Linked DNA regions of Homo sapiens: all the other regions are linked to region 3. Evidence: fine-mapped expression QTL. A gene starts in region 3. Each other region holds a variant in brackets. All regions are shown on one strand. Distances are between the middles of the regions.

Region 1 (6,426 bases), 22 kb before region 3:
CAGAAAGTAGATTAGTAGTTGCTAGGGGAAGAGGGACTAAGCCCTAATGGATATAAGGTTTCTTTATGGGGTGATGAAAGTGTTCTAATATTATATAAGTAATGACGGCTGCAACACACTGTGAATACACTGAAAAACCACTGAATCCCAACTGAAATGGGTGAATTCCACAGTATGTGAATTATATCACAGTAAAACTTCTGTTAAAAAAAAAAGCAGCTGTAGAACCATGTGTATGAGATGCTATCACTTATAGATTTGCTCACATCTCCATAAAATATCTCTGGAACCATACACAGGATACTAACACTGAGTTCCTCAGCAAAGGGACAGGGGACTAGGAGGAAGACTTTTTATCATGTATTCTTTTTTAACTTTTGAACTATGTCAACATACTACTATCTAACATTTTTATTTAAACGTGAAATAAAAGACCTGGTGTGGTGGTTCATTCAGCACTTCGGGAGGCTGAGGCAGGAGGATCACTTGAGCCTAGGAGTTCTAGACCAGCCTGGGCAACATAGTGAGACCCCTGTTTCTACAAAACATTTTTTAAAAATTTGCCAGGCATGGTGGCTCATGCTGTAAATCCCAGTTATTTGAGAGACTGAGATGGGAAGACTGCCTGAGCCTGGATAGTTGAGGCTGCTGTGAGCTGAGATCGCACCACTGCACTCCGGCCTAGACGACAGAGTGAGGCCCTGTCTCAAAAATAAAAGGGAATGAAATTAGAAAATGTTTTTAAAAGACTAGTTCCTTCTACTGGCTTAGCAATGCAGGCTCTATGCAAAACAATTCGCTTATGGGCTGCAAATGGTAATGAGTGTTAAAATTAGGCTGAAACAACAGAAATATTTGCAGTTTTCTTCCTCTATTGTATAATTCCGGTTCCATTAATGTTTCCTGACTGATCTTCTAACTCTCTATATATCTCAGTGGCTCTCTGATGAACAAATTTTCTGTGTCTCTTGTTTGGAGACCCAAACTGAACAAATTTCTGCTATGAAGGATCAAATTCCCAAATTTCTTATAAAAATAAAACCACAGCAAGAATAACAAACTTATTTTTTCTTAAATTTTGTGATAAAGCCTCCCTCTACAAAAAGTTATATTTTAGAGGAAACTAAGAATGATAAATCACCTTTAATTTAAGAATATATAGCCCTTAGGAAAAAGCCAAAAACAGCTTAGAAACACATGTTCCACTCCTAAATTTCCATCCAAATGGATTAATACTGCCCTCTGAAAGCCATTCCTCATTTTTCAACAACTTTGTCACACAGCTTGCCCACAAACAGGCTTCTAAAACAGGCCACTGAACCCCAACTCCATTCACAACAGAGCAGAAGGAAATAGCACCCCCTTGGTAAAGTTCTCCCTTCCATCTGATTCCAGGGTGCAGCCCTTTCCATTTTGGAGAACTCTGTGCTAGAGATCTTATTCGACATATGTATTGTCTTCACTCTTCTGTTATTGGTGCCAATGCTGCCCACCCCTTTGCTGATGCAAACAGGGAGGGAGAGCTGCTTTACAATGCTGCCTAACATGCCAAGACAGCCTCAACTCCCTCGCACGGCACACAGAGCCTTTCAAAGGCTGGCTCCAGGTTACCATTCCAGCCAGTTTATCATTCTCATCTCATCCCAGAGCCTACATTTTTGCCACATCAAACTTCTAGCCCTTTCCCCAACACAGCACACTCTTTATAATATGCTGTATATGCTATCTCTCAGTCTGAATGCCTTCTCCACCAACCCACTCCCGTTGGGCCAACTCCCACTCTTCCTTCAAGGCAACTCCAAGGCAATCACCACTGCAAAGTCTCCCCTAACTCGTGGTCTAATCATAGGTATTTTTTCTGAAGTATAAATGAATTTTTTATTTTAAAAGACTTATAAAGGTGTAAAAATTGTCATAGTTCATGTAATTGAAGACACCACTGAGGGTAAGACACATTATTTTCTGTGTCCCCAAGAAATAAAAATGCTGGCTATGACTCGCCAACAATTGTAAGGCATATCCCAATATCAGAGATATTAAAATATTAAAAACTGTGTCAGAATTAATGAAAGGCAGTAAACCACAAACCTGAAAGGCATGTTGTCTTCCAACTATCAGTTAACCTATAACACATCTCAATAATTGTTTTCCAGCGTCTCCCTGGCTTCTGGCATCTAAGACTCTGAATTTTACCCAAATTTGGTTCTTCTATCTCTTGTTTCTTAGCTCAGAATTTAAAACCCAGGATATGCATAGTAAAATGAGTCCTATTTATTAAGTTTGAAAATAAGAGTGCCCATTTATTAAAAACATGTTTAATAAAATACAAAAAGAATATGACAAAACACAGAAATCAGTAATATCATAAAACTAAACAAAAACAAAAAAAGCTTCTTTGCCCATAGTGACCCAGGCAATCAATACCCAACATTTCAGCATCATCAGTGTTAACCCAAACAAAATAGAGATGTTAAGTATTTTCCGTGTTTTTAAAAGACACACAGGATATTCCCTGTGTTCAAGGTTCCAAAAACATTCTTGACATTAGTCTGCTGAATCTTCTATTCACACTATTAGTGACATGGTGTTTAGTACAATGCAAGATTTTTGCCCCATAACATAAACAATGACAAGCACTTAAAAATATATTTGTAATAAAGAGTCTGACATCATTTTTGATATTTGACTGCCAAGAGCTTTCAAGCTGTACCCCTTTCCTCAGGGCAAGCTAATAAGAAAGCCCAAGTGAGCCATCCTTTGGAACAGGTGGGAAGTTCAAACCAAGACCTGGCTGAAGGGGCATATAAGGACCTTCACTCCAGACTCAGCAACTTATCACCATAAAAGGAGAGCCAGTATCCTTTTCCTGCTTTCTCAAGCCATTCTTGTACCTGCATGGGAAGCCTGCCCTGCTCTCCCCAAAAAGCCTCAGTAAGTGAGTCATAAACCCTTTTCGTACCGTCCTGGTGCACATATGGTATCATCAGTTTCCACATCTTAACCAAATTTTGCAGTGGGGGGAGAAGTAGTGGATCCATCCGCCTCTGCGGAGTAAGCACAACATTTATTCTTAAACTGATGACAGTAAACATTATTCTGTTTTGATCTTACTCCCAATTTAATGGAAATAAATTTAACGAAACAAGTGGAAAAAAATATTTACTAGTTGTTGGAGTCTATAACTTTTATTAAGGTCTATATGTGAACTTGGAAGGAGAAAATGGGCAAACTGCTATTTGGAGGTTCTTTTTTTTTTTTTTTTTGAGACTGAGTTTCGCTCTTTCGCCCAGGCTGGAGTGAAGTGGTGCGATCTCGGCTCACTGCAACCTCTGACCCCC[G/A]GGTTCAAGTGTTTCTCCTGCCTCAGCCTCCCAAGTAGCTGGGATTATAGACGCACACGACCATGGCCCACTAATTTTTGTATTTTTAGTAGAGACAGGGGTTTGCCATGTTGGCCAGGCTGGTCTCAAACTCCTGACCTCAGGTGATCCACCCGTCTTGGCCTCCCAAAGTGCTGGGATTACAGGCATGAGCCACTGTGCCCGGCCTTTTTTTGGTTTTTAAAGAACACTTAGACTCTGGACATGCTTCCTAATTGTTTTACACATCAAAAGTTGTCCCCTTTGTAAGTTTTTAACAAGATGTCTAGAAAGGTTTCCTGAAAAACTTCCGGTGTGACTATGTGGTCTGCAACTATGTGAATCACAGGGTTACCCGAGACAAGAAAGAGTGATGTGGGACCTTGTGCAAAAAGCCCTCCATGCCTCAGTTTCTCATACTTTTAAGTTTATTCTAATAGTACCGACTTCAAAGAGTTATTACAAGAATGAAATGAGTTAATATTTGTAAAGGGCTTAGAATGCCTGTCCATTACATACCTCAATGTAATAAAAGCCATCTATGACAAACCCACAGCCAACATAATAATGAATAGGGAAAAGTTGAAAGCAGTCCCTCTGAGAACTGGAATAGGACAAAGATGCCCACTCTTACCACTTCTCTTCAACAAAGTATTGGAAGTCCTAGCCCGAGAAATCAGACAAGAGAAAGAAATAAAGGGCATCCAAATCAGTAAAGAGGAAGTCAAACTGTTGTTGTTTGCTGATGATAAGACTGTTTACCTAGAAAACCCTAAAGACTCCTCCAGAAAGCTCCCAGAACTGATAAAAGAATTCAGCAGTTTCCAGATGCAAAATTAATGTAAACAAATCAGTAGCTCTTCTATACACCAACAGCAACCAAGCTGAGAATCAAATCAAGAACTCAACCCCTTCTACAATAGCTGCAAAAAAAGTAAAACAAAATACTTAGGAATATACCTAACCAAGGAGGTGAAACACTTCTACAAGGAAAACTACAGAACACTGCTGAAAGAAATCACAGATGACATAAACAAAAGGAAACACATCCCATGCTCACGGATAGGAAGAATTAATATTGCGAAGGCCAGGCGCGGTGGCTCACGCCTGTAATCTCAGTACTTTGGGAGGCCGAGGCGGGAGGGTCACGAGGTCAAGAGATCGAGACCAGCCTGGCTAACATGGTGAAACCCCGTCTCTACTAAAAATACAAAAATTAGCTGGGCGTGATGTGCGCCTGTAGTCCCAGCTACTTGGGAGGCTGAGGCAGGAGAATTGCTTGAACCCAGGAGGCAGAGGTTGCAGTCAGGCAAGATCACGCCATTGCAATCCAGCCTGGCGACAGAGCGAGACTCTGTCTCGAAGAAAAAAAAAAAGTGAAAATGATGATACTGCCAAAAGTAATCTACAAATTCAACGCAATTCCCATCAAAATACCACCATCAGTTTTCACAGAACTAGAAAAAACAATCCTAAAATTCATATGGAACCAAAAAAGAGCCTGCATACAATCTGGAGACATCACATTACCTGATTTCAAACCATACTATAAGGCCACAGTCATCAAAGCAGCCTGGTACTGTAATAAAAATAGGCACATAGACCAAAGGAACAAAATAGAGAACCCAAAAATAAACCCAAATACTTACAGCCTACTGATCATTGACAAAGCAAACAAAAACATCAAGTGGGGAAAGGACACCCTATTCAACAACTGGTGCTGGGATAATTGGCTAGCCACATGTAGGAGAATGAAACTGGATCCTCATCTCTCACCTTATACAAAAATCAACTCAAGATAGATCAAGGACTTAAATCTAAGACCTGAAACTATAAAAATTCTAGAAGAGAACATTGGAAAAACCCTTCTAGACATTAGCTTACGCAAAGACTTCATGACCAAGACCCAAAAGCAAATGCAACAAAAACAAAGATAAATAGCTGGGACTTAAACTAAAGAGCTTTTGTGTGGCAAAAGGAACAGTCAGCAGAGTAAACAGACAACCCACAGAGTGAGAGAAAATCTTCACAATCCATTCCAAAATAAACTATAGTTCCTATTCTGATTATGGTAGACTGATGATAGACTATGGACTCCTTAAGAAATTCCCTCAGGCACTCCATATATATTTATTTTAAAAGTTGGCAAGTATCTTTTTTATTTGAAAGATACTATTAAGGTATCTGCCCATAATATAGTTAGGCGATACACTCTTATACTTGTTATATATTTATATGCCGGGTTTTTGATATTATGGAAAACAAGAACAATTTGATAAGATCAAAGATTTTTTTTTCTTTTTTTTGTCTTGCTCTGTCACCCAGGCTGAAGTGCAGTGGCATGATCTCTGCTCACTGCAACCTCCGCCTCCCAGGTTAAAGTGATTCTCCTGCCTCAACCTCCCGAGTAGCTGGGACTACAGGTGAGGGCCACCACGCCTGGCTAATTTTTCTATTTTTAGTAGAGACGGGGTTTTGCCATGTTGGCCAGGCTGGTCTCAAACTCCTGACCTCAGGTGATACACTTGCCTTGACCTCCCAACAAGGGTTTTTTTCTGGGGGCAGGGTCTCACTTTGTCACCCAGGCTGGAGTGCAGTGGCATGATCATGGCTCACTTCACCCTCAACCTCCCAGGTGCAAGCAATCTTCCCACTTCAGCCTCCTGAGTAGCTGGGACTACAGGTGTGAGCCATCAGGCCCAGCTAACTTTTATATTTTTTGTAGAGACAGGGTTTCACCATGTTGCCCAGGCCGGTCTTGAACTGCTGAGCTCAAGTGATCCTCCTGCCTTGACCTCCCAAAGTGCTGGGATTATCGGCATGAGCCACAGTGCCCAGCCAAGACTAAAGGGTTTTAAACAACAAAATGACAGCACCTGATGTAAAATAGTTCTTGCTGCTATGTAGAAAATGGAGTGGAGGGGAATACGGACTGAAATTGGGAAAGCAGTTAAGAAGTGACTGCAGGCCAGGCACAGTGGCTCATGCCTGTAATCCCAACACTTTGGGAGGCTGAGGCGAGCAGATCACTTGAGGTCAGGAATTCAAGACTAGCCTGGTCAACATGGTG
Region 2 (6,426 bases), 67 kb before region 3:
GAGAGAGCAGAGTGGGAGGGTGCTGCATACTTTTAAACAAACAGGTCCCATGAGAACTCACAATCACGAGAACAGTACCAAGGAGGACGGTGCTAAACCATTCATTAGAAATCTACCCACTGTGATCCAATCACCTCCCACCAGGCCTCACCTCCAATGCTGGGTATCACAATTCGACAGATTTAGGCTGCGACACAGATCTCAACCATATCATCTGGTATTAAATCCAGAGAGATATTTGTGCTGTGGGTCTTTATAACATTGAAAAATGTATGACAGGGAATAACGTTCTCAAAGCCATGCTGGCAGTAAAGTACAATAAGTAGCTAGTTTCCTAGGACTCTTTTTTATGACATACTTCAATGTAGGCTGATAGAATTATGTCAAAGGGGCTGGGCCTAGTGGCTCACACCGGTAATCCCAGCATTTTGGGAGACTGAGGCGGGCATCTCTACTAAAAATACAAAAAATTAGCCGGGTGTGGTGGCGCGTGCCTGTAATGCCAGCTACTGGGGAGGCTGAGGTGGGAGAATCGCTGGAACCTAGGAGGTGGAGGTTGCAGTGAGGCAAGATCATGCCACTGCACTCCAGCCTGGATGACAGAGCAAGACTGTCTCAAAAAAAAATTTTTTTCAAATTATATCAAAGGGTAATTTCATTAAAGTAATTCTACAAAAAAACAAAATATATTGAAATTGTTCATACAATATCTTGACTATGCAAGAGGAAAGTGCAGGGGAGAACCCGCCATAAAAGCAGATGGTTGGCTCCTACCACCAGCTCTACCAATACCACAGATGCCACTTTCCTCCCCGTGGCTGCTCCCTCGCCTTTCCTGCACAGTGGGAGGATGAAGTCAGTGGTTCCCCAGTCCAGTTAGCACAGGAACTACCCAGAGGGGTCAGAAGGGAGCCAACTGGGGTGAGAGAGTATCTGAGTTTCCTCTAAACACTGCTCAACTCAGCTCCCTCAGGGGTGGAAGCTGCTCTCATAAATAAAAAGTCCATCTTTGGTTGGCAAGGCCCCTATGTAGCTTGGAAACCAGAGCCCCAGCAGGTGGATGCCCTCCGACACTTAGTGCTGACTTGGAAGGAATTGCAGAGATGACAAAAATGTGATTCCATCACTCACTGCTGCCCTTGTGTGGTGAAGGAAGCATCCCTTTTCTTTTTGTCACATCACGCAAGATGGATGCTGTTCACATGTGAGAATTACTCCCAGGGGAGTTCCTGCCAGCTGTAACTCATCTTCTCCCACTCAAGAACGCATTAGGTTTTGCAAGCCCAAAGTTATGCAAGGCAGGGGCTCATTGTGAATCCATGGTAATTTATAAAATTACTAAGTCACTGCGAAGCCTCAATGTTTTATTAGTAACACATTATTTGTAACATAGTTCTCAACAAATTAAGTCACCACATTGTCTTCCAGACTGAGGTTAAAGCTCTCAGACATCTGTGCCTACCACCTAGACTACACTACCCTCTCAAGTTCCTAAGGGACTCTCTAACCAGCTCCTAAGGGACTGGGAGAAAACTGCAACTGCATTTCAGCACATTTATTTGAGTAAGGAAGCAGTTTGGTACTTCCTTTTGGTGTGAGAGGCCACAGGGCATAGTGGTTAGGAACAAGGCTGTGGATCAAACAGCGGCCCCAGGCCCAGCCCCTCTTCTCTGTTCCTTTATTAGCTAAGTGGCCCTGGGTAAGCCATATAATCTTTCAAACAATGGGATTAAGATTAGTACAATTACTGTTAACTCACAGAAATAATAGAGAAAGAAATGCAAAGTGCCTGGCTCACACCAAGTATTTGGTAACTACTAGTTACTTCCATTCATGTCACCTGTCACCTCCACCCTGTGGCAAGCTCCTTGAGGAGCTTTGTCTTGTTTTGTTTCCTTATGCTTAGCACAGTGCTTGGCACAGGATTGTTCTCAGTGTAGGTTGCTGAATGGATGAATGCTTCCACCTACTCATCCATCCACGTAACATGTATTGAGCAGCTAAGTGCCAGGTGCTGTTCCCTTTACTGCAGACGGAGCAGTGAACAAAACAGCAAGGTTCTGGTCTCTTGTTAACTATGTTCTAATGCGGGAGAACAGACAAGTGTGTACTGGGAAAGAGGGAGAGAAATAGAGTAACTAGAGCAGAACTGAGGGGGCCAGGAAGGCTGAGGCGGTGGGGTGGGGGGCTTGCTCTTTTATATATCACAGAAGGTCTCCCTGAGGAGGTAACATTTGAGCAGAGGCTTAAAGGAAGTCAGAGAGCAAACCACAGGAATATTGGCAGAAGGCATGCTTCAGGCCCAGGGAACAGCATGTGCAAAGGCCCAGAAGCAGGCACACGGACGGCATTTTTGAAGAAAAGAAGGCAGGTGTAGCTGGAATGATATGAGTGAAAGGCATATCTCTTTTTCTATTCTGGTCAAAATGAGCACACAACACAATTCAGAAATTGAAAAAGATGTATTAAAATATTCACAAAAATACAACTGAAGATCAAAAAATAATAATGAGCTTGATGGTTTTTCCCTAGCTGATATATTTCCATTGAAAAACTAGAGATAGTTTGAAATTTCAATCTCTAAGTAATGCCTTTTGAGTGCTCCCATACAGAATTAGCGCATAATTTTAAGACGACCCTGTTTGCCAGGACGAAGACATGGAGAGGGCAGATCTGCCCTTTAGGCAACCTTAGTTCGTTATCTGCAACCAGGAAAGGAGTGCTGAGGCACAGGGAAAAGGGGAGCCAAAAGGGCTGCAGGGGTGGGTGTGCAGGGCTTGGGAAGAGGTCCTGCCCTGAGAGGCTCATCTCAGTGTGAGCAGCTTCCTTCAGGGAAACCTGTCCTGGCAGAGCACCATGCTGGCAGCTGCCCTTGCCTGGGGGGAAGGTTGGTGAGAACTGGTGAGGATTCTCTGCCAGAATGCCAGGGCACTGACAGAGTTTGAGGTGTCTGGTTGGGCAGGAGGCCAAGAAGTCGGGCTGGGGAAGGGAGTGGTAAGGGAGGAACAGGCCTCCAGGTGTCATTCGAGTGAGTGGCCCCCACAGCACCAGCTTCACCAACACATGGTCCCGGCACCGCAAGAA[G/C]AAGTGAAGGCTCTTGCTCTCAGGGAGCTCCGAAATGTTTCATTTATTCACAGGAACTGTTGAGAAAGCAGTGAAAAAACAATGCCCCTTTTCTCTGTAAAAAACGACTGTAAGGAAACATGACACAGGCCTGTCTACAATGTGTGTCCTCTGTACCTCAAGCACAGCCCTGGTCAGCTATGTGGTTTTCATGGTGGCAAAGGCTCACCAGGAGTCTCAGCTTGAAGGATGGTGACAATCTCAACACCCTTCCCCTCCAAACATAAGAGGCCTTCCAAAGGCTCCTATAGTTTTCAAAATAGATGCCCAAAAAGTTTTAGGATGCAAGGCAGAGTTGACCACTTTGTGGAAATGTCTCAGGGCCAGCACTGTGTGTCACTCTCTTGGGCTGGGCCTATGAACATGGAAGGCAGCAGGGCAGGCGTTTTTTTCTCCATTCCACACAGAACACAGAGCAGACGCTGCCCAGCTTCAGACATGTGTGGTGACCAAACCTGATCCCTGTTGACTCACACAGATGTGGCATGTAAGGTGGAGCGTTACAAGAATAACAAAAATAGCTCCTCAAAAAACAAAAGGCTTCATGTATGCAACAGCATTAGTTTTGAAGCTCATATGCCCTTTATCTTACCACCTTGTGCACACCTCAAAATCTCAATCCTGTTTTATTCCCTTTGTGAATTCTGTTGGAACTCAGCCTTCAAACATCCCCAGAAGATGACAAGATGAGAAGAAAAAGCAGCAGCTCATAATGGACTCCAAACTACAGGGAGAAAAAGTAACATTGCCCCTCACTCCCACTCACCCCAAACACGTTCTGCAGACCATCTAGACAGTAATTCTTTCCATAACTGTGGGCTTTCGAACAATTTTAAAAGGGGGGAAATTTAAAAAAAAATTCAGAAAATGGGAGAAATGACAACATAAGTGTTGAATGATCTTCACCACACTTTCCATTCCCAGTAAAAAGTAAAAACTCATAGATTTTAAGTGCGGTGGGGAGTAGTGAATAGGAGAAAACAAGTTTTAGGGAAGGACAGCCAAACTGTCTAATCTAGGCTCTCATTAACCTCAACAGTCTTTGAGGCACCATGAAGCTGTTATAAAGCCATGACTGATGCTGCCTCTTGCTGGAAGCATGACTGACGCTTTATAAAGAAGGTGATTCTTGCCAGCTGCAGTGGTGCAACTATAGTTCGTTCCAGCTACTCGGGAGGCTGAGGAGGGAGAATCACTTGAGCCCAAGAGTTCAAGGCTAGTCTGGGCAACATAGTGAGACTCTACCTCAAAAAAAAAAAAAAAAGCGAAAGAAGGTGATTCTCTAGAGAGCGAGCTCTGGGAGATTGGAGAGCGGCAACATAATGATACCATTTCTGCCTACTTAGAAGGAAAGAAACTCCTCTCCTTTAGCTGTATGGTGACTGTTATTTCAAGCAGAAAGGACATCAGCAAAGAATAAAACCGATACTTTTTACTCTCCACGTTACAAAAGTTCTCAAGCAAAGCTTGGATTTTCTACTTAATCAGTATTGATCCAACTGTGTCCAGAATGAAGTGACCTTCGGCATTTATCCTTTGCTAATCTTGCTATTATGAATCCAGAAATTGATATGACACATTTCAAGGGTGCAAACTTAAAGTAAGTCTACACAACATGTAAGGCTAACAATTGCCCCATATTTTAGTGAGAAAAACTTCAAAAAAACTTCTCAAATTGTTTTCAAGTGGCATAGCCAATGGGTATTTTTTAAAAGCGGCAGACAAATAAATGGTACTGATACTGTGCTAAAGGCCACCCTGGGTATGCTTCCATCATAGCATCTCCATCCTCCAACTACAGTAAATGCTAAGACTAATCAGTCTTAAGCCCTTAGATTAAAAGGCCATGTCTACTGGAAATACTACAGGATCTGCTATTGTCTCCATTAAGGCAAACCATTTCTAAATGATGGTGAAAGGAATGTTTCTGAAATCTCCCAATTGTAAATGACCTGAAAAGAAAGTACAAAAACAGCAAGACAATGGGTACATATGTAGAATCATACCATCTTTTCATCATGCAACACTGGCTCCTCATATCAGGATGACTAAATAGAATATTTATACATATCCTTTGTACACATCTTTCTCTCCCTCTGTGAGTACACGTGTACTTGTCCTTGCCTGGGTCTCCAAGGCTACATGTGGTAATGGGCTACATTTTCTGCACGAGAGTCCAGTTTGGTTTTGTTTCTTGCTGAGGATATGTTCTAGGTATTCTCTTAATTCTTTCGGATATCCGCATACACCACAGACTCTGACTTGTTAATCTTGTCACTGTGATGTCCGCCGGAGTGGTCTAACTGTGCATATATGACTGGGCCCTGGAAAAGGGAAGCAGAAGGATTAGAGGACTGAAAACGCTGGCGGTTCCTTCAGCTACAGGCATAGAAGCAATGATTAACGTGATCACATCAGGGTTCCAAAGCAAAGACTTCCCTCTTGAATGTCTTCAGGAAGACTTCTTATGGATGATACATCCAGGACTGACTTTGAAACAAGATTGGACATACGTTGACAATAGTTAAAGCAAGTACATGGGGCTTTGTTACATTATTCTTTCAAACCTTTTTGATGTTTGAAAATTTCTGTAATAATATATTCCTTCTTAGGAATATCTCTTATCTTAATAGCTATCACAGAATTCCTCAGCTCTTACAATTGGGGTAAGAGTCTTAAGGACTAAGATGGGAACTTCCACGCACCTGAGACCCACAGAAATCATGAGCTTCAGAATAATCAATCCATGCAAGAAACCAACATATTTGGTGCCACCCAAAGATACAATCAATTTGATCTGGTCACGTTATACAAATAGGTATAGTTTTAAACAAATAGTTTAAAAGCACTTCAAATATTCTTCAATACAACTACTTACAGCATAATTCTTTTAGTCTGAGCGTATTGTGACCAATACAAATATTGCTTCCTTGATTTTTAATATCAGATAACTGTTCTTCCTGTTTTAAAATAAAATTAAAAAGAAAAAACAAAAAGCCACAATCTACACAGATATAAAGAAAAACCCTAAATGGAGTAAAGTAGAAAAGATCCTCTTCTCAGCCTCAGCAGTAAGGAAGAGGTTACAATTCCAGGGAATTGTCAGGGTCCCATTCAGGAGAGCAAGGGAAGGTTGGGTGGCCTGGGGGCAGAGCGAATTCCCTAACTGTTGGGGGAAGAGGTCAGATAGGTGGCTGCATTTCATGACTCTTTCAGTCTAGACTCTTAAAATTGTAAACAACAACAAAATAGCCCTGGTTTTAAAAGAAAGATTTAATATTACCCAATGTCAACTTTTCTCCC
Region 3 (6,426 bases):
AATAAAAAAATCAGCCAGATGTGGTGGCTCACGCCTGTAATCCCAGCACTTTGGGAGGCCAAGGCGGGTGGATCACCAGGTCAGGAGTTCGAGACCAGCCTGGCCAACATAGTGAAACCCAGTTTCTACTAAAAAATACAAAAATTAGCTGGGCATGGTGGCATGCGCCTGTAGTCCCAGCTACTCGGGAGGCTAAGGCAGGAGAATCGCTTGAACCAGGGAGGTGGAGGTTGTGGTGAGCCGAGATCACGCTACTGCACTCCAGCCTGGGCAACAGTGCGAGACTCCATCCCCCAAAAAATAAATAAATAAAATAAATTTAAAAATAAATAGAAAAATCAAAAATTAGCCAGGCATGGTGGTGCATGCCTGTAGTCCCAGCTACTTGGGATGCTGAGGCACAAGAAGAATCACTTGAATCTGGGAGATGGAGGTTGCAGTAAGCCGAGATTGTGCCACTGCATTCCAGCCTGGGCGAGACAGAGCAAGACTCCAGAGGGGGAAAAAGAGGAAGAGCAGCTGGGAGGCTATCACAGTAATATAGGCAAGAAATGGTGGTGACTTTGACTAAAAGGCTAGGAGTGGAGGTAGAAAAAACATCAATTCCAGATGCATTTTAAAGATGGGAGAACTGATTGGATGTGAAGGACAGGGAAGAATCAGGGATGGACCCTAGGTTTCTGGCCTGCACAATTAGATGTATGGAGGTTCCATTTACTGACATGGATGGTACAAATTACTGAGATTTAGTCCTCATATACTATGTGCTCATTTCAATTACCAAATTCAGTGAATTCTTATCACATTTTATCTCTCTTCATCTGACAATGCTGAAATACCAAACTCACCTGGTTTTTCTCTTACTCACAGAGACTCTTTGTCAGGTTTCATATACCCCAAAACTCCGTCTTTGGCTCTCTGCTATGTTCTTCAGTGCATTTTCCCTGGATGCCCTCATCCAAACAATCCAAGCTTTAACTATTAGCCACATAACTCTCTAAATCTCCATTTCCAACCAGAACTTTCTCCTCACCTCCAGAACTGTCTATCCAATTGTTTTCTGCCCATCTCCATTTGGATGTCTTACCCGCATCTCAAACTCAACATATTCAAAAGTATCTCCATCATCTTCTTCCCCCAAGACTCCTATTTCCCCATCTGTGAAAAGGCCAAAAATATGCCCAGCTTCCCAAGCCCAAAACCTATGATCATTTTATCCACCTCCTCTTTCAAGCCTGCATCAATGTTTCCAAGCTCTATCAAACGTACTTTCTAAGTGGCGCATCAACATGTGTCCTCTCTTCATAGCCCAATGCTTGAATTCAGATCTTCATCATCCTCCCCGGGATTATTACAATAGTCCTCTGCCTTCTCTGGCTTCAGCCTCACCCCACTCTAACCCATCCTTCACATCTCAATAGACAGAGAAATCCTCATTGGATTAAGTGTGGCAGACAAGGCCCTTTGTAAGCTGGTGCCCTTGGCAGGCTCTCCTGCCTCAACTCCCACCATTCCCCTTATATACACTCCAACCTCCCACTATACTGAACTACCAACAGGTTCATTCATAACTCTGTATGTACTTCTGCCCCTCCCCCATGCCTACCCAGTTTAAACTCCCTTCCTCCAGTAGCCTGAACTACAGTCTGAGATAATGACCCTCCTTCAAGCTCCCACAGTACATCTTTACCAATGTGCTTCTGACCCTACACAGTGGCACACACCTGTAGCCCCAGCTGCTTGCGAGGAAAAGGCAGAGGAATCACTGGAGCCCAGGAGTTTCAGTTCCAGAGCAGCCTGGGCAACACAGTGAGACCTAACCTCCCACCTTTTAAGTGTTAAGCACTTAAAAGGTGCTCAGTGAATGTTTGCTGAGTAACTGTCTTGATAAAACTTTAGAAGCTATCCTGTAAAAGATAAACTCTTATGTGCAGTATCCATGACCAGAAAAGAGGTGATTTGGCAAGAATTTTAGATTCAATAATTTTCTAAGTTGAACCAATAACATCAGCTGCTGATTTTTACATATCAACATTCATCTTCATTACTGAAGAGTTACGTCCAAGTTGTATGGGGCTATTACTCTAGTGATCTTTTCACTACTATGTAGTTTTGCACTCCTTCTACGTTTAATACCCTGATTTTAATTAAGATCACCCTAACTGCTTTGTCCTCCATAGCAATGTCTGACCTCTCATGCATAACAATTCTGTCTGAAGCATATTTCTGATAAACCTTAATTTTAGGCTATTTTCTACTTGTTTGATTAAACACAAATACCACCACCAACAAACACACTTTTAACCTTTTTTTCTAAGACAAAATACAGAATGGATTGTGTCTTACACAAAGTGTGTCATCATCTGTCAACCCCTGGAGGGTAGGGAGACTTTTACATTTATGCTTTACAGCCCCTGGAATCACTGTTTAAGTGGAACAGTTGGTGATCCAACAGAACTTCACCTAGTTTCCCTGATCCAAGGATTATATTAAGAACTTTTCCATGAAGAAAGAAATTACTGAGTAAACTCTGGTATTCAGATACTGTGATGCTAAATCATAACTGACATTTTGAAAACAAAGGGAATGAAAAAAATCTACGTGGTTTCTTAGCAGCTGGCCCTCTTTATAACTATTATTTAACTAAATTCGGAGACAGCAACAAGTACTTTGCTTTGAACAACAACACAGAAAAGTCCTGTGGCAGATACCACTTCAGATGTCCATAAAACAAGTCATCCAATTCCCATAAATTGAGCCCGAGGTTTACCTTAAGCTTGAGTCACAATATTTGGTAAGAAAAAGGAGCTTTTTTTTTCCTTTAGGAAAATTATGCTTTTTAATGCTCTATGTCTTGTCAAATTATGGTGGCTACGTCTGGAATTATGATGGATTTGACCAAATTCTTTTAAGCCAGGCCATCTCACTGGTATTCCAAGCTCTTTGCATTCTAACCTAGAAGTAACAATATTTTTTTATTGGCGTTTTGCAGACCACGGAAATGAGACTCTTTTATTACGGAGACTTAAAACTGAATGAGAGCATGGGAAAGGGAACTTACAACAAAACCCTGGCTTAACAGGAAACAAATCAACAAAGGCCCTACAAATGAAAAACCTGCAACTTTCCGCCACCTCCCAAAGGTGAAGAACGCCAGAACCCTAGTTCCTGAGTCAGAATCCGGGAGGGCCTAGACGATCCAGAGTCACCACGAGGAGAGGGCAGGGTGCGCCGCGAGGGCTCACCGCAGCCGCCCGCCGGGTCCGCTCCCCTGGACCGCCCCCCGGGAAGGAGCAAGGTAAAGCACTCTCCCCTCCTCCTCCGCACTCCAGGATCCAGGAAAGAGAAGAAAGAGGCTCTGCGCCTTCCCGGCCAGTCGCGGAGGCCCGCGTTCCCCATGGGCTGGGTCCCCTCGGCCCCAGAGAGCGCAGGCCGCGCCCCCTCCCCACCTCGGCTCTCAGTGCGCGCGCCTGGCCTGCGACCGCCGCGATGGGCGTGTGTCGGGCCCGGGGGCCCCACTCCCCGGCCCCAGCCCTGGTCCTGGCATCACTTACAGAGCCCAAGCGCCGCCGCCAGCACCGACCACAGCCAGCGCCGGCTGTCTGGGGCTGCAATCACCGCCCCGGCTCCGGCGGACGCTGCCATCGTCCAGCCACTGCAGTCGCCGCCGCCGCCGCCGCGTCCCTGAGCCCGGGTCCCCGCTGAGGTTGGCTCGGCTTGGGGAAGAGGCTTCTGATCTCTCCGCCACCCGCGCCGGGTGGCACCTCCACGCCGCGCTCCCCACTCCGGTCCCAGCCGCGGCTCTCCAGCTCTGCACCGAAGCCTCAGCCCCACTCCGGCCCTCGCTGTCCGCTCATTGGCCTGCCCGCACCCTTTTAAGGACGCGATTGGAGAGTCAGGCTGTCCATCATCCGTCCGCCGGGAAGGCCCCGCCTCCTCGGTCCCACCCAGGCGCCTCGGCCCCGCGCGGAGGCCGGGTCTGCAGCGGTCCCAGGCCGAGCCGAGCCTTCCGCCTGCCTGCGTGGCTGTCCGCCTGCGGGCCCCACCAGCCAGCGTCTCCTCTGCCTTTCTCAGGGTCCAGTCCCGTGGTCCTCTTCATTGTCTCTCCTCGCCACAGGTCTTTGCTGGGTACTAACCTCGCCTCCGTTTCAGCTCTTCTTGTTCTCTGCCGGCCTCACCTAACGAAAAAGAAGCAATTCATTTACCTTAAAAAGAAAGAAAAGACAGAAAGAAAAATAATGAGGCGTTCAATTGATGGGGGAGAGACTTCTGATTCAGTCGTCCAGGTGGAACACGTTCCCCGTGCCGTGTCCCCAAGGCCTGTCCTTTGCGTGGACTAGATAATGTATGTGTTGCAATTTGCGAAATCTACTAGTTTAAAAAGAAGTCTCCATCTTGCCCTAACCTCCTCTTAGGAACCTCCCTCCTGGCTTCAGAAGGATGGGAATCTGGAACTCTTTCCTACTACCTGAAAAACAAATGAAAATGCTTTTTGATTGTTTTGCTTTCGCATATCTGTGTTCCTGTCTGTGTCCGTGAAAAATAGAAAGCAGAAGTTCCCAACACTGATTCTGAAGTGCCCTGCAGAAGTTCCCGACACTGATTGCTGGCCCTGCTCAACTTGGTTGCCTTGGCCCAGAACAGTCTGCCACCTACGGGTTGTCCAATCAATAGGGGAAATATTTGGAAGGATCCTTATGAAAATGGCTTACAAAAGGGAAAAATGGGGGACAGGGGCACAAGAAAGATGAGTGTGAAGGAGGAAAAGGGAAGATTCAGGTGGGAGGCTGATACGATGAGGAAGGGAAGCAAGCTTTAGACAATTAGGACAAGAGCGGGGGAAGAGTATGGTGAGAACCCAAAATGTAACCTCTCACTTCAGGGTTTTTGTCTAAGGTCAGTCTTAACAATGCCATTCCTGATATCTGTGCTGTTTCAGCTAACATTGCAGTACAGCGAAATCATAAGAACATTAGTGAGAAAAAAACTTAAAAAAAAAAAATACCAGAACCACTTTGCCCTATTTCTGTCAGCAGATCCTTTTGAAGTTGTATCTCAAATGCCATAGGTTGGAAAAGATACCAATGCATTAATTGAACCATGGATGTAGAACACCTGGGCTTTACTCTCAAGAAGCACATCGTCTACTAGTGTACACAAACAAGTACTCAATTACATTTGTAAAAATGAGGGCCGGGTGCGGTGGCTCACACTTGTAATCCCAGCACTTCGGGAGGCCGAGGCGGGCAGATCACGAGGTCAGGAGTTTGAGACCAGCCTGGCCAGCGTAGTGAAACCCCATCTCTACTAAAAGATACAAAAAAATTAGCCGGGCATGGGTGGCGCGTGACTGTACCCAGCTACTCGGGTGGCTGAGGCAGGAGAATCGCTTGAACTGAGAGAAGAGAGACAGAACCTCTCATATAGTTTTATACTCAGAAAAGGAAAGAGAAGCGAAATTAAAGGCAGGTAACCCGGCGCCTAAGAACCAGACCCGAAACCAGGCCTGGGCCTGCCTGACCTAAGCCCGGTAGTTAAAGATCGACCCCTGACCTAACCGGTTATGTTATCTATGGATTCCAGACATTATATGGAAAGGCATTGTAAAAATCCCTGTCCTGTTCTGTTTCGTTCTGATTACCGGTGCATGCAGCCCCCATTCACAGTACCCTCTGCTTGCTCAATTGATCATGACCCTCTCACGCGGACCCCCTTAGAGTTGTGAGCCCTTAAAAGGGACAGGAATTGCTCACTCGGGGAGCTAGGCTCTTGAGACAGGAGGCTTGCCGATACTTCCGGCCGAATAAACCCCTTCCTTCTTTAACTCCGTGTCTGAGGAGTTTTGTCTGCGGCTCATCCTGCTACAGAACCTGGGAGGCAGAGGTTGCAGTGAGACGAGATCACGCGCCATTGCACTCCAGCCTGGGCGACAGGGCGAGACTCCGTCTCAAAAAAAGGAAGAGTGAATAAAGAAGAAACCCAAGGCCAGCAGGGACAGTGACTCTCAGCAGTGTTTAAAGCTTCTCTGCTGATTGTGATGTACCTCAGCCACATATACCTCGCTCTCCTAAAATCCACTGGCCCAAGAAGCATCTAGAAAGATTCACCAAGGATAAAACATTTAAGGTGAACTTTAAAAGATGAATAATTCACCAGAGAGAAAACAGGAAAAGCAAACTCAGAGAACGGAGAAAACAGGAAAAGCACATTCAGAGAAAAGAAATCACCTACCAAGTGTGAGAAACATTAGGTGAATCCTTTGTGGTTTGCAACTTGAGGGGAGTGAGGGAAAGAGGGGAAGAGAGAATGCCAGGAAAGGAGGCTGCGGTCATATTTTGAAGAGCCTTGAGTTGTGTTTTTTCTGGAGGCAGTGGAGAGTGGTGAAAGGGGTGTAAGAAGTTCGGATCTGTGTTTTAAAAAGGTAAC
Region 4 (6,426 bases), 56 kb before region 3:
CTAGATCATCAATTTTAGAGCTTTATTTTTTTCTAATATAAACAGTTAATGCTACAAATCTTCAAAGCACTTCTTTAGCTATATCTCACAAATTTTGATATGTTATTTTCACTCAGTTCAAAATATTTTCTAATTTTTCTTGTGACTTCTTGTTTTACTCATGGGTTGTTCAATTTTGAAATATTTGAGACTTTCCAGGTATCTTTCTGTTGATTTCTGTTTAATTCCATTGTGGCCAGAGAACGTACTCTATATGATTCCAACCCTTTTAAATTTAATGAGAATTGTTTTATGAACCAGAATATGGTCTATATTTGGTTAATTTTCATGTGTACTTAAAAAGAGTAAGAATTCTGCGCTTGATGGAAGGAGTGTTTTATAAATGTCTATTAGCTCAAACTGGTTTCACTGTTAAGTCTTCCGCATCTTTTTTGATTTTCTGTAAACCTGTTCTACCAACTGCTGAGAAAGGAGTGTTGAAACCTCCAACTATGATTGTGAATATGTCAATTTCTCCTTTCAATTCTCTTAGTTTTACTTCACTTACTTTCAAGCTCTATTATTAGAAGTATAAATATTTAGGATTATGTCTTCTTCATGAGTAGATCACTTTGTCATCATAAAAAGTCTGTCTTTATCCCTGGTTCTATTTCTTGTTCTGAAGCCTATTCTGATATTATTACCACCCAGATTTCTCTTGATTAGTGTTAATGTAGCATATCATTTCCATCCTTTTACTGTTTAAAAAATGTGGTAAAATATATATAACATAAAAATTAGCATCTTTACCATTTTAAAGTGTACAGCTTAGTAGTGTTAAGTGCATTTACATCCTTGTGCAACCAATCTCTACGATATTTTCATCCTGCAAAAACTGAAACTGTACCAATTAAACAACTCCCTATTCTTCCTTCCCCAACAACTACCACTCTACTTTCTGTCTCTATGAACTGGACCACTGTAGGGTATGGGATATTAGTAGAATCACATAGTATGTCTTTCTGTGGCTGGCTTATTTCACTTGGCATATCTTCAAGATTCATCCATGTTGTAGCATGTGTCAGAATTTCTTTCCTTTTAAAGACAGAATAATATTCCATTGTGTATATATATACCACATTCTATTTATCCACTTGTATACTGATGGACTCTTGGGTTGCTTCTGTATTTTGGCTCTTGTGAATAATACTGCTATGAACATGGATGTACAAATATCTCTTCAAGACTCTGCTTTCAATTTCATCCTTGTATTAATATTTTTAACCTACCTGGATCTTTTTATTTAAAGTGGTTTATTGCAGACAGCATATGATTGGTTCTTGCTTTTCTATCCAATTTGTCCATCTCCACCTTTTATTGGCACACTCAGCCCATTTATAGTAATACAATCATCAGTCTGGTTGAGTTTAAATCTACCACTTCATTATTTGTGTTCTATTTGCCCCATCTACCCTTTGCTCATTTTCCCCTCCTTTCCTGCTCACTTTTGGATTAACTGAGTATTTTGAAATGATTACATTAAAGTTTCTTGTTGAAACCTCCAACTATGATTGTAAATACGTCAATTTTTCCTTCCAATTCTCTCAGTTTTACTTATTTTCAAGCTCTACTATTACAAGTATAAACATTTAGGATTATGTCTTCTTTGTAAGTAGATCGCTTTATCATCATAAAAAGTCCCTCTATCTCTGGTTCTATTTCTTGTTCTGATGCCAACGTTGATATTATTACCATCCGCATTTACCATTTTCCATGTTGTAGCATATGTCAGAATTTTGTTCTTATCAGTATTGCCATTCGGAGATAGAGCTTGTTAGCTGTATCTATCTCTTTTATTTTTTTCAGTGTTTGCTCTAGAATTTGCAGCATATATCTTTAACTTACCACAGTCTACCTTCAAATTATAATTTCATGGATAATATAAGGACCTTACAACAGTATTCTTCCATCCTTCCACCCCATCCTTTGTACTACTGTTGTCATACATTTTACTTCCACATGTTATAGCCTCATAAAATGCTGTCATTATTTTTGCTGTAAAGAGTCAATTTTTTTTTTTTTGAGATGGAGTCTCACTCTGTTGCCCAGGCTGGAGTGCAGTGGCGCGATCTTGGCTCACTGCAATGTCCGCTTCTGTGGTTTAAGCAATTCTCCTGTCTTGGCCTCCCAAGTAGCTGGGATTACAGGCGCCTGCCACCATGCCCAACTAATCTTTGTATTTTTAGGAGAGATGGGGTTTTGCCACGTTGGCCAGGCTGGTTTCGAACTCCTGACCTCAGGTGATCCACCCACCTCAGCCTCCCAAAGTGCTAGGATTACAGGCGTTGAGTCACTGCGCCCAGCAATTTTCGCTATTGCTTTCTGTGTGTTTATGTTTTTCATTAAATTTACTAAAAATTTCACTATTTCTTTACATATTTTTTTCTCTCCCTTTTTCTTCTCGGATTCTAATTAGATTGCTTGATATTGTCCGGTGGCTCACTGAAGCTCTGTTCACTTTCTTTTTTTTCTTTTTTTCTTTTTTGAGACAGAGTCTCGCTCTGTTGCCCAGGCTGGAGTACAGTGGCATGATCTCAGCTCACTGCAACCTCTGCCTCCCAGGTTCAAGTGATTTTCTTGCCTCAGCCTCCTGAGTAACTGGGACTACAGGCACGTGCCACCATGCCCAACTAATTTTTTGTATTTTTAGTAGAGATGGGTTTTCACCGTGTTAGGCTCTGTTCACTTTCACCCCGCCATCTGTCTTTCTCTTTGAGCTTCATTTTGGATAGTTTCTATTGCTATGTCTTCAAGTTGATTGACCTTTTTTTTTTGCAGTATCTAATCTGTTGTTAACACCATCCAATTTTTTTTTATTTCCAGAAGTTCCATTTTGGTCTGTTTTAGATATCTATTTCTTTCCTCATTGGGTTCAAGCTTTCCTTTACATCTTTAAGTTTACTAATAAGATTGATAATACTCATTTTAAGGTCTTTGTTTATGAATCCCATCATTTCCATCCATTCTGAATTTGTTTCTGATTGATTTCTCCTGATTTTTTATTGTAATTAATTATTAAATTATTATTTTTTTAAATCTATCCATCCATCCATCCATCCATCCATCCATCCATCCATCCATCCTTCCTTCCTTCTTTCCACCCATCTATTTATTTGAGATAGGGTCTCACTATATTGCCCAGGCTGGTCTTACACTCTTGGGCTCAAGCAATCCTCCCACTT[A/TA]GGCTTTCAAGTAGCTGGGACTACAGGTACACACCACTATATCTGGCTTATGTGTTTTATTTTTTGGTTTCTTTTTATGCCTGATAGTTGTTTTTTTTTTTTTGAGATGGAGTCTCACTCTGTCACCCAGGCTGGAGTGCCAGTGGTGTGATCTCGGCTTACTGCAACCTCTGCCTCCCAGGTTCAAGTGATTCTCCTGCCTCAGCCTCCTGAGTAGCTGGGATTACAGGTGTGCACCACCACACCTGGCTAATTTTTGTATTTTTAGTAGAGATAGGGTTTCACCATGTTGGTCAAGTTGGTCTCGAACTCCTGACCTCGTGATCCACCCGCCTTGGCCTCCCTAAGTGCTGGGATTACAGGCGTGAGCCACCGCACCAGGCCATGCCTGGTAGTTTTTGATTGGTGCCAGACATTGTAAATTGTACATTGTTGGGTGATGAATTTTGTTGTAGCATAAAGCGTGTTGGATTTTGTTGTAAAATGCAACTAAATTACTTTTGGATTAGTTTGATTCTTTAAAGGCTTCCTTTTAAGCTTTGTTATGGTGGGTCCATAGCATCCTTTATTCTGGTACTAATTTAACCCATTTAGGTATGACCATTTTGAGAACCCCAACCAATACCCTGTGTATTATAAGTCTCTCTACTCTGGCTCTTAGGAACACAAACTAGTCCCTCACCTGTGTGAGCACCAGGCATTGTGCAACCTACTGCATTTCAGGTAGTTCTTCCCCTGGTTTCAGAGAGTGTTCTCCTATGTGTATACAACTCTGTAATCAGACAAAGACTCAAGGGGACCCCGCTCCAAATCTCTGAAGTGCTCGTGCTCATCCTAGCACGCTCTCTCTATGGTTCCTTCTTTGGTACTCAGCCTCATAAATCTTAGCCTCCTTGACCTCCCCAAATTCTGATTTCCGCCTTCTCAATTGAGTGAGACAGCTGGGCCCAGTTTCCATTTTCCCCACCTACACTGCAGTGTGGAAACTGCTTCAAGGCAGTACACTGGGGCAATAACACGGCTCACATTGTCTGTTTCCTTTCTTTTGGGGATGACAGTGCTGCATAATTTGTGTTCCACTGTCTTGAAAACCACAGTTTCTTTTTCTTTTTTCTGGTTTGTTTTCAGCAAAAAAGCAACTTCCATAGTGCTTCAAGGGCGGAATAAAAATGTTCCAATGCTTTTTTAGATGCTATGCCTATGTGTATGTAACTTTCATGTCTTCATTTACAACCATATTCCTGTTCACAACCCAAATTAGTAGACTGAGGTATCTGACATATATTATGTAATGTGAGAGAGAGACAGACAGATAGAACAGGAACAAGTAATGAGCCTGATGCTGTGGTAGAGAACATGCTATCTAGACACCTGGGTTCTAGCCCCAGTTCTGTCACTAACTGGGTGTGTGCTTTTAGTAATTTAACATCACAATGCCTTAGTTTCCTCACCACATATAACAACTATGGAATAAGACTATGGGTACTTTTCCCACAAAACACTGTTACTCTCTTTATTTCCTCTTAAATCCATTCCCACCAGCTAACACCTTTTTAGGACAAAGCTATAACTGGCCAAATTCTTTAGCATGCTTTCTACCCCAGAAAAATCAAACTGAACTAAGCTATGGAATTTTTGCCAAGCCACAGTTATAATTAAAATACTACAGCCAAAACACACAAAGCTAGATTATATGCTAACTTCCAAATAAAACCTGTTTCTCTTCTGTACTTTCTACAAGTAGAAACCAAAACCATTCCTTGTTCATCAAGCCTATTAATTATTCAGATAAATGCTTACTTTCCATTTTTTCTAAAGAATCCACAGAAAATAATTTTGGTTTTATTATCAATACTAAGAATACCAACTTTTCCTTGCTAATTTCTTATCTTAGAGTACCTCAATACAGAAAGAATCTCCTTCATTAGATTCATTTCCTTGGGCAATTAAAGAATCTTTTACTGACAAAGCCATTTCCTAATTCTGCTTGAGGCAAGGAAGCTACATGGTTAGTAAACAATTTATGTTATTGGTGGTTTCATGGAAATCTTTACTCAAGCAGATTCTTCACCACATATTTTCCTGTGGTCTTCCTAGGCCAGCCCTTTAATTCCTCACTCCCACTCTCTCTTTGTCTCTGTCTGTCTGTCTCTGTCTCTGTCTCTCATAGCTCAGTATTCTTTTCCACACCCAAGGAAGTGACAGAGCACCAAGCTGTAGGGAACAGTGCAGTGGGCAGAATCGCAATCAGCCATTACCTGGTGAGATCCAGAAGGCAGACTCTTTACAAGACCCTCAGTGTCGGAGGGGGACTTCCGAGGAGCCTGCTTAACTGGTGACAAACTCTCTGATGTACTGCAGCTGATGAATTGGCAATTTGAAGAACAAATGTAAAAAATAATAATAATAAATAAATAGAAACAAAAATATAGAAATGCAACTGACGGCAAGATGAAGCAACAGATATATAAAAACAAAAGACAACATAACAATGGGTGTCAAAATGATCACATGTTTTTAAACTATTTTCTATACCTGACACTCACTCATTCTTCTAAGTCAATGAACTCATCACTGGGGGAGGCACAGAAACAAATATGGTACAACCTCTTCAACCCAGTTTACAAAAATCATATTGGAATTCTAGTTACAATACACATTTATCCTTTTGCTGTTTGTCTTTTCCCCCTGCCATCAACCCTCCTTTGGGATAAAGGTTTAAGGGAACAAGCTCTATGGTACCTTTTATTAGCTTAATGGCAATTCACTTTTGTTATAATCAAAGGCAAACCTCTTCTGAATGTATGTTTTAAATTACAGATATATATCCAGGCAAGTCTTGGCTTATCTTGTTCTCTCCATATTTTTATTCCCTACCAATACCACAATCAAATCCCCCCAAAAACTCAGGAAGTCATGAATGAGAAATTAGGGAATGCCAGGTCACACAGGCTGAACCTTTTCACGGTGACAGTAGTCTTTAACAACAAGCACTATCTCATAAATGAATCAGGGAAAGTGAATGCCAGGAAGTAAGAAAGCTGGGGTACAGCGTAGGGATTTTCCAATGAGATGTGTCATCAGTACAGCTTAAAGCCTTTTGATATATACTTTTAAAACTTAGGAGTTTGGGGAGAATCACATTTAAAGTGTCATTACTAAGACCAAAGCATACCATGCATTCTGCAAACTGTTCCTTCTGTGA
Region 5 (6,426 bases), 48 kb before region 3:
ACCACCTTGTGAGTTTATTAGCAAGAAATTGAAATTAAACTCTTAAATTGGGTAAGTGATGTCTTAAGAATACTAATTGCATAGTGGATGGTATTGAAACACAGAGCACAGACTGCTGAGCAGCTCATCTCACCAAACCTAAGAAGGAAACTGGAACAGAGATTAGAATCATATTCCACATTTAATAGCAGGCCCACTGATTTCCACTTGCCCATGTTAGAACACCTCCTAAGGAGACTGCCTGATTCTGACATGAAAGAAAATAGTAGTTAATTCTTTAAAATCCTTTTTTCATTAAATACAGAAGTTTCTATAAACCCTGATTCCCTCCCTCCACCCCTGCCCTAAAAAAACAGTGTTTCTTACCCAGTGTAATCCCGTTTAGAGTTTTTCCTTCTATAGAGGACAGCCAGAATCATGCTGATGAGCAGAGTGAGACCTAGGACCACAGCAGTAACTATGCCCACCACTACCCAAACTGGAAACACAGGCAAATTCTCTAGAGAGAAAGAACAAAATAGTTTTAAGGTACATTGCTACAGAGAGAAAACATGGAATTTTATTAAATTAACGAGCAAGTATCTTCATTTAGCAGTTACCGTACCCTCTTTTATTATCCAAACTATGAGATCCTACTATCTATCCTATTACTATGTAATTCATGACATGTGAATATTAGATGAGAAAGAATGAACTATGGAACTAAGCATTTCTACACCTACAATCCCTCTCAGTGCTCTAAAGAAAAACCGGAGGTGTGAATTTACCTGGATCTACTCTCCAACAAAACAGACTTTGTCTCAAAAATGAGACACCAGAACCTGCATTTCCTGTTTGTTCTCAAAATCAAAAGGAAGAAATAACTGTGCTGTTGTTGAAAGCTTTCTCCTGGAGAATATAAAACAGTATGAATCTCCTTCTTTCCCACTGCCCATCACATCCAAACATAATGAATTTGGTCTTTCTTCTAATTAACACTGAAAAATTCATACTCCTGAAATTAGACCAATAGGCACCAGACGGTAGGAATAAAAATGGAGAAATCAGCCACTCTGGGTCAGAATGAGCAACAAGTTTCCCAGCTCCAAGTGTGTTTGGTAGAGCCACAGGTTCGTGGCAACAGGGAGCACAACTGTATGGCAAAAATCCTCCCTCCAAACCCACCATGAAATGCAACTCATGTTTTCCAACCAAACATGAGATAAAGGAGACTGCATTATTACTGCCAAAATACTCAAGGAAGTACCTTTTTCTACGACATAGAGCCTAATGTGTCCAGGCTGGACAACGATGTCAGGAGGGTTTTTGACATCACAGATATAGGTGCCATTGTGTATAAACTGCATATTTTCTATGTTGATTGATGCATCTTTCTTGTCAAGGTCTCCAGCCCAGCTGATTCTGTCTTTAAATGGTGGATAATTCCCAAGGTACACTTGCCCTTGGGAGTAGTGGAAAAACTGCAATTAGAAAAAAGGAACACATGAACTATTCTCAAAGGCAGAATTCCTAAACTCTGTAATGTGCATGCTATGAAAGGTTCTTTTAAAGACTTCATACGGAAAGAAATGCAACATCTCTCTCCCTCTCCCTCTCCCCCTCTCTCTCCTCCTTTTTTCGGTCTCCCTCTGTTGCTGAGGCTGGACTGTACTGCCGTGATCTTGGCTCGCTGCAACCTCCCTGCCTCGGGCTCCTGTGATTCTCCTGCCTCGGGCTGCCGACTGCCTGGGATTGCAGGCACGTGCGGCCACGCCTGACTGGTTTTTGTATTTTTGGTGGAGAGGGGTTTTGCCGTGTTGACCGGGCTGGCCTCCAGCTCCTGACCTGGAGTGTTCTGCCTGCCTCAGCCTCCCAAGGTGCTGGGTTTGCAGATGGAGTCTTGCTCACTCAATGCTCAATGCTGCCCAGGCTGGAGTGCAGTGGTGTGATCTCGGCTCGCTGCAACCTCCACCTCCCAGCCACCTGCCTTGGTCTCCCAAAGTACTAAGATTACAGCCTCTGCCCAGCTGCCACCCCATCTAGGAAGTGAGGAGCGTCTCTGCCTGGCCGCCCATCCTCTGGGATGTGAGGAGCCCCTCTGCCCGGCCACCCTGTCTGGGAAGTGAGGAGCGCCTCTGCCCGGCCACCACCCCGTCTGGGAAGTGAGGAGCGCCTCTGCCTGGCCGCTGTGCAATCTTCCAAGTGTGAAGTGACAGCCTTTCTGCACGTGTACCCAACAGCTCCGAAGAGACAGCGACCATTGAGAACGGGCCATGATGACGATGGCGGTTTTGTCAAAAAGAAAAGGGGGAAATGTGGGGAAAAGAAAGAGAGATCAGATTGTTACTGTGTCTGTGTAGAAAGAAGTAGACATAGGAGACTCCATTTTGTTCTGTACTAAGAAAAATTCTTCTGCCTTGGGATGCTGTTAATCTATAAACCTTACCCCCAACCCCATGCTCTCTGAAACATGTGCTGTGTCAACTCAGGGTGAAATGGATTAAGGGCGGTGCAAGATGTGCTTTGTTAAACAGATGCTTGAAGGCAGCATACTCGTTAAGAGTCATCACCACTCCCTAATCTCAAGTACCCAGGGACACAAACACTGCGGAAGGCCGCAGGGACCTCTGCCTAGGAAAACCAGAGACCTTTGTTCACGTGTTGACCTTCTCTCCACTATTATCCTATGACCCTGCCACATCCCCCTCTCCGAGAAACACCCAAGAATGATCAATTAAAAAAAAAAAAAAAAAGAAATGCAACATCATATTACAAATCACAAGTTATGGAATCTAAGCCAGACAGAAGTTTAGAGATCACGGCACTCAACCCTGCCAGGTTTCAATGGAAGAATCAGACTCATATATCACCTCTAATCCTCTCAATATTTCATTGATATAATTATTACCACCCATAATTTTATAAAAGACAAAATGGAGACTTAAGAGAAGCCATTTTCCCAAGGTACCAATGATAGTAAATTGGGGACCCAGAGTAAAATTTAGGCCCATCTGAGTCTTCAAAGCCAATGTTCTTCCAGTAACACCATGATTGAGCCCAGTGATTCCCAAGGCTTCAGAAAGCTTAGTGTTGAGTTAGCTTACCACTAAGATACACAGAAGCACAAAGGAGAAGAATCCTAAATATCTCAGATCAGCTAATCTGAGTTTCGCCCTCTTCCTTCTGGTTTCCTATGGAAAAGTCATGGGTGTGTGAAAGGAACAAAGCCCAGATAACACAAGATACTCTTGCCGGCTTTTGAAAGTTCAGCCTTTAGCCCCTTTCTCTTTCCACTCCTCAGTCTCTCCTCAGTCCTGCTTTCAGCAAAGGAACTGTCTTCTCAAAGTAAACCTTGTCAAACTCAGCACCTGGAAGCAGGGTTAAGGCCCAGTGGGAGGGGATCTATCCTCACACTTGGCTCTAATCCAAGCAGCTATGCTGGAGGCCTGATGTCTTTGTTCTGGTTAATGGACGGGGTGATGGTGGAGCTGGGGATAGAAACCAGCTCTATTAGCAATTCAAACAGAACATTTTCAGAACCCTTTGAGCACGGTGAAAACCCCAGTGCAGACTCATCCATTCCTATGATTTAATGATCATCTAGATTTTCTTAACTCCCAAACCTCTCTCTCCATCA[A/G]TAGCGTCCCCTAAGCTCTAGACTCCTTGCCTACTCACTTTACCACCTGGCTGCCCCTCTCCCCCAAGCTTGTCACCCTCTCTTACAAACTTCATCTTCCCCTCTTCATGTATCGTGTCTTCACTGATGGCTACTGTTTCTTTCCAAAACCATAAATCTTGAAGTCATCCTTGATTCTCTTTCTTCCTATCCAGTTAATCCCCCAATATTGTCAATGTCTCATTAGTTTCTCTCAGTTCTCTCTTCTCTCTATTCGGTTCCCACTGACAATATCTGTTTTTATGTTTTCATCATCTTGGACTATGGCCTCTTAACTGGTATGTCTAACTCATCATCTTCCACAATGCCTAAATGATCACTGATAAAGAATAATGGTTATTATTATAACATTTATCAAATATTTACCCTGCATTTCATATGACCTAAATGCTTGTTAAGAACCGTGAAGGGTCTGAGATTTTACCCTACTTACAAGCTAACAAAGTTAGTTGGCCACAGGTTCATAGGTGCTGACAGAAGACACGGACTCCTGTGAAATCTTCACTCCCATGAAGAAGACTCAGAAACAAAGAACCTTATGAGCAGAAAGCATGTGTTTGTTTCTCTTGCCCCGCAAGTCCCATAGCCATGACATGGAGGGGCTCACATGGATGTTGTGCAGGCAGAGGCGTTGCATCACAGCCGAGGAACCCCAAGCTCAGGGAACACTATTCTCTTACAAGGGGCAGAAGACATGTCTGACTTCAGCCCTGAAAGGAGACACTACCTTTACTATACTCAAGAATACACAAATTTGTCCTTTGCTCCAGAGGGTAACATCATCTCTGCCTTCCAAAGCTAGTTACTGTATAAAAAAAGTCCAGAACAAAGGCAGCCAGTGCCTTTGCTAGCAAGGTGTGCAAAAACGTGAAAGACCCATAGAAAACTGTCTCCCAACAACTCTCTAGCCCTCACAACCACCCTGCAAGGTGAGATTCGCCTACCTGATATTTCATAAATAGGGAATGTGAGGCTCAGGAAACCTTGGTGACTTTCCCAAAGTCACAGGTTTTAGAGATGGAATTCAAACTCAGCTCTGATTTCAAAGCTTATGCTATTTCCAATGTTTAAGGCCTCTCAGGTGAGATCATGTCTTATCTGTTCAAAGTTCTTCACTCTCTCTTCTTCACTAGAAAATGAACCATAAACTCTCAGCTTTGCAAATGAATCCTTCCATCACCTGCTCTCTGCCTTCCCTTCCCACAACATCTCCACATATTCCCTGCCTTGCATTTCTGAACCAGCGGGGATGAGCTACATGATGCTGTTTCTCAGCACTGGGTCTGAGACAGCTCCCTCAGTCAGGCTCCCTCATTGAATGGGGGCCATTTGAAGGCAGAGGATAAGATGTATTTATCTCTGTACTCCTTAGCACTTTGGACACAGCAGGAACTACATAGTTTGCTGAATCAAACTGAGGAATAACGTCTTGGTCAAACCAGTGAGAGATGGAAATAAAACAGTGAAAAATTCACAGAAAAGACTAGAATCATTATCAATCAATATTTTTAAAGTACAAGCCATGGTGCTAAAGCTATGAGGTATACTAAAGATGTAAGACAGGCAAGTCCTCTTAAAACACCCATATTCAGGAAGAAGAGGAAAACTGTCATATTAAGGGATCTGTATTATAGGAATGGCCCAGATAAGGGTAGTGAGTTTTAAGGGCTAAAAGGTTAAAAAAAAAAAAAGAGGCATTATGGAGGAGACAGAGGGTAAAAATGGGGTACAGCTTAAATGACAAGTGTTCAGAAGTAGGAAAACAAAGCACAAAGCATTTTTACTAAACTGGAAGTGATGCCATAAGAGAACAGAAGTGAGGCTAAAGTGGTAGGCTGGGCCAAATTGTAATGAGCTTTTAATTCTAGACAAATGTTGTCCACAATGGGAATCTAGGTTCCTGATAACCTGCAGTGGCAAGGTGAAAGAGCTGTTCTAAGACTATGCACCTGCTGGCATATGAGGGTTGGATTGAAAGATGAGAAAAACAGAAGCAGAAGAATAACAAGGGGCTACTGCACAAGACCAGGCACACAGTTAACATTGCTCAATAGACAGCAGAGACACAGGAAGGCTGACAAAAAGCTAGACACCAGAAACAAAGTAGGAAGAACCAGCAAAGGTTCTTATTTCTTGGGGGCAGAAGGGAAGTGGTAAGGGACAGGGAAGGAAAGGACAGAAAACACAAAACAAAACAAAACAAAACAAAACAAAACAAAACAAAATGATTACAAAACTCATCTGCAGATGAACACAATTAACCTAAAAAAAAAAAAAAAAAAAAAAAGCAGAAAAGGGAAACAGAAGGGAGAAAAAATGAGTTCAGTTTCAGACATGTGGATCCCAAGGCCATGGGCCAAAAAAGCCATCCACAGTATGGCTTTTGAATATACTGGGTTTGAATATACTTTTCCTGTAAAACCTATAAAAACAAAAAAGCAACCCACTCATCTTATTAAATGTGTCCCGACATTTTGGAATTAAAGGATCCTATGTCAATAACTGAACATGCTGGGATTAACTGCAATCAGACTCGTGTGTAAGTATAAATTGATTAGCTAAAAATATTAATCAGAATTACAGCATGTTCTTAATATTAAGTTTTGAGTTATGTAAACCTTCATGGACCTACACGACAAGACTGTTTCCAGCATAAATGGAACCGCTCTTTAAAAGAAAGTTATTACCTCTGGGTGGCTCTCACACCCACTCTTGCAGAAGACTTCAGTGGGAAATCTTTAAATGTTTAAATAGTTCTTTGGACTCTCTTG

What was found.
Region 1: its variant is fine-mapped to the expression of MPZL1 in whole blood (Lepik 2017, PIP 0.95).
Region 2: its variant is fine-mapped to the expression of MPZL1 in blood mononuclear cells (TOPMed, PIP above 0.99). The same link has a PIP of 0.9 or more in T cells, monocytes and monocytes after interferon gamma.
Region 4: its variant is fine-mapped to the expression of MPZL1 in unexposed skin (GTEx, PIP above 0.99). The same link has a PIP of 0.9 or more in fibroblasts.
Region 5: its variant is fine-mapped to the expression of MPZL1 in whole blood (INTERVAL, PIP above 0.99).

What each region holds. Positions count from the first base shown.
Region 1 is chr1:167,741,521-167,747,946 of GRCh38, reverse strand. The region is part of intron 1 of MPZL1 (myelin protein zero like 1); the gene reads right to left. Among named protein-coding and RNA genes, the nearest start is that of MPZL1, 23 kb to the right of the region's middle. The variant G/A (reference allele first, on the strand shown) is at 3,339.
Region 2 is chr1:167,786,841-167,793,266 of GRCh38, reverse strand. It overlaps MPZL1 (myelin protein zero like 1), which reads right to left. Exons shown (of 6, transcript NM_003953.6): 6 at 1,348-5,447. The coding sequence ends at 5,346. Among named protein-coding and RNA genes, the nearest start is that of MPZL1, 68 kb to the right of the region's middle. RefSeq lists a silencer at 536-684. The variant G/C (reference allele first, on the strand shown) is at 3,085.
Region 3 is chr1:167,719,371-167,725,796 of GRCh38, reverse strand. MPZL1 (myelin protein zero like 1) reads right to left here and starts at 3,815. Exons shown (of 6, transcript NM_003953.6): 1 at 3,555-3,815. The coding sequence starts at 3,645. RefSeq lists silencers at 3,176-3,315, 3,346-3,415, 3,806-4,175 and enhancers at 2,987-3,487, 5,714-6,213.
Region 4 is chr1:167,775,220-167,781,645 of GRCh38, reverse strand. It overlaps MPZL1 (myelin protein zero like 1), which reads right to left. Exons shown (of 6, transcript NM_003953.6): 5 at 5,480-5,582. Among named protein-coding and RNA genes, the nearest start is that of MPZL1, 56 kb to the right of the region's middle. The variant A/TA (reference allele first, on the strand shown) is at 3,222.
Region 5 is chr1:167,767,309-167,773,734 of GRCh38, reverse strand. MPZL1 (myelin protein zero like 1) reads right to left here. Exons shown (of 6, transcript NM_003953.6): 3 at 1,247-1,460; 4 at 367-499. Among named protein-coding and RNA genes, the nearest start is that of MPZL1, 49 kb to the right of the region's middle. RefSeq lists enhancers at 1,728-2,229, 3,164-3,735. The variant A/G (reference allele first, on the strand shown) is at 3,617.